Linked DNA regions of Homo sapiens: region 2 is linked to region 1. Evidence: fine-mapped expression QTL. A gene starts in region 1. The other region holds a variant in brackets. All regions are shown on one strand. Distances are between the middles of the regions.

Region 1 (4,388 bases):
TCCTACCTTAGCCTCCTGAGTAGCTGGGACTATATATCACACTTGGCTAATTAAAAGTTTTTTGTTGGGCCGGGCGCGGTGGCTCACGCCTGTAATCCCAGCACTTTGGGAGGCCGAGATGGGTGGATCACGAGGTCAGGAGATCGAGACCACGGTGAAACCCCGTCTCCACTAAAAATACAAAAAAAAAAAAAAAAAAGTCCTAGCTACTCGGGAGGCTGAGGCAGGACAATGGCGTGAACCCAGGAGGCAGAGGTTGCAGTGAGCCGAGATCGCGCTACTGCACTCCAGCCTGGGCGACCGACAGAGCGAGACCCCGTCTCAAAAAGAAAAATGTTTTTTTGTCGAGATGAGGTTGCACTTTGTTACCCAAGTCTGGTCTCAAACTCCTGGCTGAGATCCCCGTTTCAGCCTCCCAAAGTGTTGGGATTACAGGCGTGAGCCACCACACCTGGCCTGTGCCTAAGGTTTTTTTTGTTTTTTGTTTTTGAGTCGGATTCTCGCTCTGTCGCCCAGGCTGCAGTGCAATGGCACGATCTCGGCTCACTGCAACCTCCGTCTCTTGAGTTCAAGCGATTCTCCTGCCTCAGCCTCCAGAGTAGCTGGGATTACAGGTGCCCGCCACCAAGCCCCAGCTAAATTTTGTATTTTTAGCAGAGATGGGGTTTCACCATGTTGGCCAGGCTGGTCTCGAACTCCTGACCTCAGGTGGTCCGCCCACCTCGGCCTCCCGAAGTGCTGGGATTACAGGCGTGAGCCACTGCGCCCGGCCTAAAATATTTTTTATTTTTGTCTTTATAGGTTTTTTTTCTATGTGTGTGAGAGGATTAAATGAAATAATGTAATTAGTAAAGCGATTAGTTAGCACTTTAAAAATATTTATAAATGTATACATAGATATATAATACATATCTATGTGTACAAACACTGAAGTTTCCTATTCTTTCTGTGCCTACTTTTTCCTTTCTTTCCCCGAATACTTTGTCTCTGGAAGAGTTCACACTGTAACCTCCAACTGTTCCAGCTACTTGGTTTGCTTTCAGCACTAGGCTTGTAGGATGCGCAGCCAGTAGGGGGCAAGAATCACCCAGGCGTGCTTATTACCCAAGCAACGGAGTCAAACAGCACTTTCAGAATGACTTTACAAAAGGGTTACCAACAAGGTAATATGTTTATTGTGTTAGGTCGCTTAATAATAACGAAAAGATGAAAACAAGGAAGTGAGAAGCGGTAGGGACAGCCCTACTCTTCAGTATTCATTAAGTGGGAGCCCCGGTGTGTCGGGCTTGCGTATGAGCGTGAAGACAGACGTGGGATGGCTGAGCTCACACGCCTTAGGCTCTGATTCTAGCCGTGGTCGCGCCGAGGGCTCCGGGTTACTTGCGGTTTCACTGCCAATAAAGTGCTTTGAGCGAGCCTAACAAGCAATGAATATGTAAACATTTTGTTTCTAGGACTAACTAGGTAATGAAGAGATCTTCCAAGTGACAGAAACGCTGCTAGGTAACTTCCTGGGCCGTAGCTCCCCACCCTAACAGGTTCTGAAAATAGCTCCAGGCCCTTCCTAACCGGAGTTTGAAAGCAGGCGCGGGGCGCATGCGCGCGGCCCTCCGGCCGACCTCCCGATAGCCCTGGCACGCGGACCTTCTTCCCGACAGGCCGCGGGGAAAAAAGGGCGGGGAAACGGAATTACCGCGAGCTCTCCGTGAGCGCCGGCGGAAACAGTAGTCACGTGACTCTCCTAGGTGGCCTTCGCCTTCCCCCTCCCCCTTCGCGGAAACCCGGCCCCCTCACCCCTCGCCCACCCCAGAGCCGCGGTAATGGACCGTTTGGGTTCCGGAATTCTCTTGGATCCAACAACTGGTACCGGGCCGAGGATAGCCGGCGGAGTCCGTTTTTGGCGGCGAAGACTGGGGGGTGGTCAAGATGGGGGGGAAATCATCTTCCTTCACCTAGGAGGGAGGCGGGGCGGAGAGGGGCGCAGAGAGGCGGGTGGGGGAGGAGGGAGGAAGTCACGTGAGGGCGCTGCGTGCGCGCGGCGCCTCATCCGTTGCCCCTCCCCCGCCCCTCCCGGCGGGGCGGGGGGGCTGGGGGAGGGGCGTCAAGATGGCGGCGGGGAGGTAGGCAGAGCAGGACGCCGCTGCTGCCGCCGCCACCGCCGCCTCCGCTCCAGTCGCCTCTGGTCCTTCAAACTCACACCTCCCGGGAGGAGCTGTGCTGGCGCCGGGTCCCGCGGGGAAAGTAAGTCCTTCCCTTGGCCCTTTTCTCCTTCCACACTCCCCCTCCCGGACAGCCTCCCACTCCCACCCTCGGGGGGCCGTGCGGGGCCAGGCTGGGGGGACAGCCACCTCGCCCCGGCTTGGGGCCTCCCTCGCCGCTTGCCGCTCCTCGCGGCCGCGCGCTCCGGGGCCCTCGGGGGCATGTTCCCGACGGCGGCTCCGTTGTACTCGCTTCCTCTGTTCGTCAGCGCCGGGCCCCGCTGTCGCCGCTCGTGGGGCTTTCGGGCTCCGGGAGCCCCGCTGTCCCGGGCCGGAGGCACCCCTCTTGGACCGCGGGGCAGGGTCTGTGCACGCCGGCTCCGCTGGGTTCGCCCCTTTGGCTTCCGCCTCACAACCCGGGGGCTGCGGGTCCGGGACCCGCGGGGAAAGTAAGGACCGGATCCTTCCCAAGTCCTCTTTCGTGCCCCAGCATTGCTCCCGGCTCTGGGCGAGGGAGGGAGGCAGGCGACGCGGTCGTCCTTCCTAAATCTGAACCCCACAGCGCGGTCTCGTACATGCCCCGCTCTTGGGGCGGTGGGGAAGCCGCGGGGGACACGTGCAGGCTCCCTTCACGCCTCTCCAGGCGACTCGCTTAGTTCTGCCTCGGCGGGCGAGCTCACCTCCCAGACCCTAAGAATTACCCATGGAGGGGAACGGCAGTTGGGGATTTGCTTACTTTGAGAGCGTTTGGCATAACGAGCATCCAGAGTTCCCCAAAGCAGTGGATACCGGTGGTTTCCCAGAAGTGGTTTGGGGTCGGTTTAACCGCTGAGGAGATTTGGATGTTCCTAAACCCTTCTGATTGTTTCTTTCCTGACCCTGGCATCCAGCTCCTCCCCTTCCCACCCCTGCTTTGTGCTTCTGTTTGGTTAATGTTTGCGGACCACTAACTTGATCCTCGCACAGAGAAGCTCTTTTTATGTGCGTGCTCGGTTTACTGTGGGAGGCTTTTGTTTTGGGGAGTCGCTGGTTGAGAAACGTGGGAAAAGAACGGGCCAGAAAATGAGAGACAAATAAAGCAACGTTTTTATCCATTGAATTGCGCAGCCAATTGTAAGTGCACCCGGAAGTTTGTACTGAACACGTGTTGAGGGAAGGTTATAAACTGGTCCCCTTTGACCTTTGAAAGTTGGCTATTATCATTTTATGTTGAGTTAAATGTTTCATATATTCTAGACAGCCAGAATTAGGGATGGAATATGGTTTCTAAAGAGTCATCCAGAAGGGTGCAGAGAACTGTCATCCGGAGTGCCCTAGCAGGAATTGACTTAACACTTTCAGATAATTCTGCGAGCTGACAGTACAGAGGGATTCTATTTTCCACCATATTTTCTAGCAATCAGAATTGATTTTCATAAGCGTAGGGAAAGCTATCATCGTTGCACAGAAGATAGCAGAATTTCCTACTGGTGACTTGAGTGGGACATTAATTTTGCAAGCAAGGGAACATTTTCTCTCATCTTTTAAAGAAGTTGTTTCCAAAATTTTTCCGATGGGAGACGACTTTACTTTTTTTCTCTGGCTTCTGCTTTTTATCTTCCATTCCAACTTATTCCATATAATTGCGTTTGGAATATTTATGCTATTTTTAAATTTTTGAGACAGGGTCCCACTCTGTTGCTCAAGCTGAAGTGCAGTGACGTGGTCATAGCTCACTGCAGCTTGAACTCCTGGGCTCAAGCGATCGTCCCACTTCAGCCTCCGGAGTAGCTGGGACTACAGATGTGCACCACTACAGCAGCTAATTTTTTTTTTTTTAATTTTTTTGTTGAGAGGCGGGGGTCTCACCATGTTGGGAGGCAGCTACTGGCCTCAAGCAATCTTCTGGCCTCCGCTTCCCGAAGTGGTGGGATTACAGGCATGAGCCATTGTGCCTGGCCCCTTCAGAATCTTTTTTTTTTTTTTTTTTTTTTTTGAGGCGGAGTCTTGCTGTGTTGCCCAGGCTGGAGTGTAGTGGTATGAACTCGGCTCACTGCAACCTCTGCCTTCAGGGTTCAAACAATTCTCCTGCCTCAGTCTCCCTAGTAGCTGGGATTGCAGGCATGTGCCACCACACCTGGCTAATTTTTTTTTATGTAGTTGGCAGAAAGGGGTTTCACCATGTCGGCCAGGCTGGTCTCACACTAGTGA
Region 2 (4,388 bases), 140 kb after region 1:
GATCTTTTGGTGACTAGATTTTAAGTACATTTTAATGTCCTGAAATATATTGTGTGTTTATAAAACAAATCCGAAATAACTTACCTGAAGTTTGGAAAAGCAGTACTCCTGGAAAAACTCAGTGCTGTTTTACACACTGAGTAGGCTAAATAAGTCCTGAATATTTGCTGCTGATTTGCTTGGCACAACTTTTATGCAGAGATAGTGCAGAGATAAGCATCAGCTTATCGTACCAAATTAAGGGTGTCCAGTGAACAAGATTTGACTGTCATTTGGGGCAGTGGGGAAAGAATCCCCACTGCACAATGAAGGGCTGTTCTGAAAGTTGGGGGAAATAATCCTCTGGAATAGCTGAGATCAGAGAAGCTGGAAATTAATCTTATTGTTTAGCACAGACTTTTTCTATTTTCTGCCGATCCTTTGGAGTGTTCTCTCACTTCTGGAGAAGGTCTTCTTGTTGTGTTCTTAAAAAGAGTACAGTGCGGTCTTTTTACTGGCCGTTTCCTTTTGTGGAGCAACTTGTGATCAGATTTTGAACAAATGAGGTGCCATTAGAAGGATTAAATGTCAGTGGTTTTGTACTGCTCTGCTAAATCTTGAACTGCTGAATTATTCAACACTTTGATAGAATGAAGAAAACCATTTGAATTATTTATGTTTCAACAGAAGTAGTCCCCACCTTAGTACAAATGGGGTATCCTCTTTCTCAGGGAAGACCAGACCATCTGTAATTCAAGGTACAGTTGAAGTCCTAACTTCTTTAATGCAAGAGCTACAAAACAGTGGAAAGACTGATTCGGAACTTTGGAAAAACTGTGAGGTATCTAATTTTGTTTTATTTTTGGAATTTTAAAATAATTATGTTAAAACATACCTCTACTAAACTCTAAATTATTAGAAATTTATGTCCTGAAGAGCATGACACTTTTAAGTTAATGCTAAAGTGGTCAAGTATATTAATTTGGGAATGATATTGAATGAATGGGAAAAAGGTGATCAAAAGTATTTTTTAACAATATATTACTGATTAGACATACTAATTTGTATATTAAATATGAACTAAAACATTGTCTTGGTTCAGAGACCTGAGAATCCCAAAATTATTAAAATTGTTACTAATTGTAATGTTGTCAGTAACTTATATGGAATTGTCATCATTTTGAAAAACCTAAATCCACTTTGAAATATTTTCAATGTTCTAATTATAAATTGAAGCTTCTATTTAGTACCTTACCATATTCAGCTGTGATACATTGCATTATATTGTTTTCAGATCAGTGGTTCTTTCTTTGGTTCATAGGTTAAATTGTGATATAAAAATGTAACAGTTAAAAGAATACTTACATGGCCGAGCACAGTGGCTCACGCCTGTAATCCCAGCACTTTAGGCGGCCAAGGTGGGAGGTTTGGTTGAGGCCAGGAGTTTGAGACTAGCCTGGGCAAGATAGCGAGACCCTGTCTCTACAAATATAAATACATAAATAAATTAGCTGGTCATGGTGGCACGGTGTCTGTAGTCCTAGCTACTTGGGAGGCTGATGTGGGAGGATCACTTCAACCCAGGAAGTCAGGGTTGCAGTGAGCTATGATCACAGCACTACACTCCAGCCTGGGTGACAGACTGAGACCCTGTCTCTCTCTATATATAAAAAAAGAGAACCTGTAATCCCAGCACTTGAGGCAGAGGTGGATAGCTTGTGCCCAGAGTTTGTGACCTGCTTGGGCAACATAGCAAGACCCCCTCAGTAAAAAAAAAAAAAAGTATATATAAATTTTATTTCATAGGATAATGCTCAAGATAGACTTTCCTAAGGCTGGATTTGATAGTTTTTTATAGAAATGTTTAAACCATTATTAATTCTTAGAAAGCACTAGATCTTGTTTTAAACGTTAATTGTACTTTTAGAAGCATAATTTGTGTTATTTTTCAGAATGTAGAGTAAGCGAAATGAAAGATTACCTGGTTTAAGAATTCGATAGCAGCAACTGCTAAGTGTAATTATTTATATCCATTATCCATAATTATTGAAATTATAAAAAAGTATTAT[TATA/A]TGCTTAAAAAATTGAGTTTTCAGTTTTTATACTTTATGCTTGTTTGCATATAATAATCAGTATGCACTAACGTGAAAGACCTTTAAAAATGCCCATGCAAATGCAATTAAAAATGGAATGTTTTATTAAGTATATTAAATGCTTCCCTTAATGTATCTACTCATAAGCTTTTTGTTTATTTGTTTGTTTGTTTTTGAGACAGAGTCTTGCTCTGTTGCCCAGGCTGGAGTGCTATGGTGCGATCTCGGCTCACTGCCACCACTGCCTCCCAGGTTCAAGTGATTCTCCTGCCTCAGTCTCCCGAGTAGCTGAGATCACAGGCGAGCGCCACCATGCCCAGCTAATTCTTGTATTTTTAGTAGAGAAGGGGTTTAGCCATGTTGGCCAGGCTGGTCTCGAACTCCTGACCTCAGGTAATCTGCCTGATTTGGCTTCCCAAAGTGCTGGGATTACAGGCATGAGCCACCGTGGCTAGCCCTTATTAGCTTTTGATAACTGAATTAACATGCTTTAGGACAAAGGAGGCATTGCCACAATGTATTTTAACTTCTGGAAAATTTGTGTTTAACTAGAAATTGTTACTTTTGATAATTAGAAATCAACCTTTTTTTTTTGACATTAGCATCTTAAGTCAGAATCAGAATATATTCCCTGCCCCACCTCTCCTCTCCCCTCCCTCCCACCCCCTCCCTCCCTCCCTTCCTTTCTTCCTTCCTTCCTTTTCTTTGTTTCTTTTTCTCCTCTTTCATTCTCTCTCTTTTCTTTCTTTCTTTTTTTTTTTTTTTTTGAAATAGGGTCTCATTCTGTCATCCAGGCTGGAGTACAGTGGCACAATCTCTGTTCACTGTACCTTCAACCTCTTGGGCTCAAGCCATCCTCCCACCTCAGCTTCCCAAGTAGCTGGGACTACAGGTGCACACCACCATGCCCAGCTAATTTTTGCATTTTTTGTTGAGACAAGGTTTTGCTATGTTGCCCAGGTTAGTCTTGAACTCATGAACTCAAATGATCCACCCACCTTGGCCTCCCAAACTGCTAGAATTACAGGCATGAGCCGCTGTGCCCAGCCTCTGAGCTCTGTTTTTATAACAGCTTTCAAAATAACATCAATTTATATTATCCTGAAATGAAATTCATAGGTAATATAACCTACCTTTACCCGCTTTAAAAAATCAATATACTATCCTAAATGTGACATAAAGGAGAAATAAAAAATTTACAGTAAAATAACATGTATTTGGATATATCCATGTCAGGCACATGTTCATTAGAAGACATAATGAAGTAGTCATGTTTACCTGTATGTACTCACTGTGAATTCAGCAGCTGAACACAGATCAATATAGCTATGGTGTGTTGATGATCCAGGTATTGTGTACAGCACCTCCACTGGTGACATGCTTTTCTGAAAGGGTGACCAACTTCTCATGAGATTTTGAAACTTAAGTTTGTTTTGATGTTATGAATACTGTGCGAAATATTTATTGTTTTATAACATAAAATGGACACAGGACAATTCTTCATCATGGGGGACTGCCCTATGATCCGCATGCCTGGACCCTGCCCACTAAATGCCAGTGATGTCCCCCCAGCTTTGTCATGACCGTGACCTCACAGATTTCCAACATGGAGTTCCTTCCCCATTGAGATCACTGCATCATATTTAAATTTAAAACTTAGGCCTGTAATCCCAGCACTTTGGGAGACCGAGGCGGGTGGATCACTTGAGGTCAGGAGTTCGAGAACAGCCTGGCCAACATGGTGAAACCATGTCTCTACTAAAAAATATGAAAATTCGGCTGGGTGCAGTGGCTCACGCCTGTAATCCCAGCACTTTGGGAGGCCGAGGCAGGCGGATCATGAGGTCAGGAGATTGAGACCATCCTGGCTAACATGGTGAAACCCCGTCTCCACTAAAAATACAAAAAAATTAGCCGGGTGTGGTGGCGGGTGCCTGTAGTCCCAGCTACTTGGGGGCTGAGGCAGGAGAATGGCGTGAACCCAGGAGGCAGAGCTTGCAGTGAGCCGAGATCATGCCACTGCACTCCAGTCTGGGCGACAGAGCAAGACTCTGTCTCCAAAAAAAAAAAAAAAAAAAAATGTGTATATATATATATATAAATTAGCAATTAGCCGAACATGGTGACACATGTCTGTAATCTCAGCTACTTGGGAGGCTGAGGCATGAGAATTGCTTGAACACGGGAGGCGGAGGTTGCAGTGAGCCCAGATCATGCCACTGCACTCCAGCCTGGGTGAGAGAACGAGAGACTCCGTCTCAAAAAAAAAAATAAATAAATAAATAAAACTTAATCCTTTTAGCCATCTATGAGATA

Evidence for each region. PIP is the estimated chance that this variant, and not a neighbour inherited with it, causes the effect. A credible set is the group of variants that fine-mapping cannot tell apart.
Region 2: its variant is the best candidate, but not a certain one, in a credible set for the expression of SBNO1 in fibroblasts (GTEx, PIP 0.55).

The regions. Positions count from the first base shown.
Region 1 is chr12:123,362,554-123,366,941 of GRCh38, reverse strand. It overlaps SBNO1 (strawberry notch homolog 1), which reads left to right and starts at 2,095. Exons shown (of 32, transcript NM_001167856.3): 1 at 2,095-2,241. It overlaps MIR8072 (microRNA 8072), which reads left to right and starts at 2,099; the gene lies at 2,099-2,178. SBNO1-AS1 (SBNO1 antisense RNA 1) reads right to left here and starts at 1,994. Exons shown (of 2, transcript NR_157806.1): 1 at 1,827-1,994; 2 at 1,138-1,417. RefSeq lists enhancers at 1,335-1,544, 3,005-3,054, 2,711-3,429 and silencers at 1,715-1,814, 1,945-2,184, 2,295-2,374, 2,415-2,524.
Region 2 is chr12:123,223,895-123,228,282 of GRCh38, reverse strand. MPHOSPH9 (M-phase phosphoprotein 9) reads left to right here. Exons shown (of 24, transcript NM_022782.4): 3 at 667-820. Among named protein-coding and RNA genes, the nearest start is that of MPHOSPH9, 7.1 kb to the left of the region's middle. The variant TATA/A (reference allele first, on the strand shown) is at 2,049.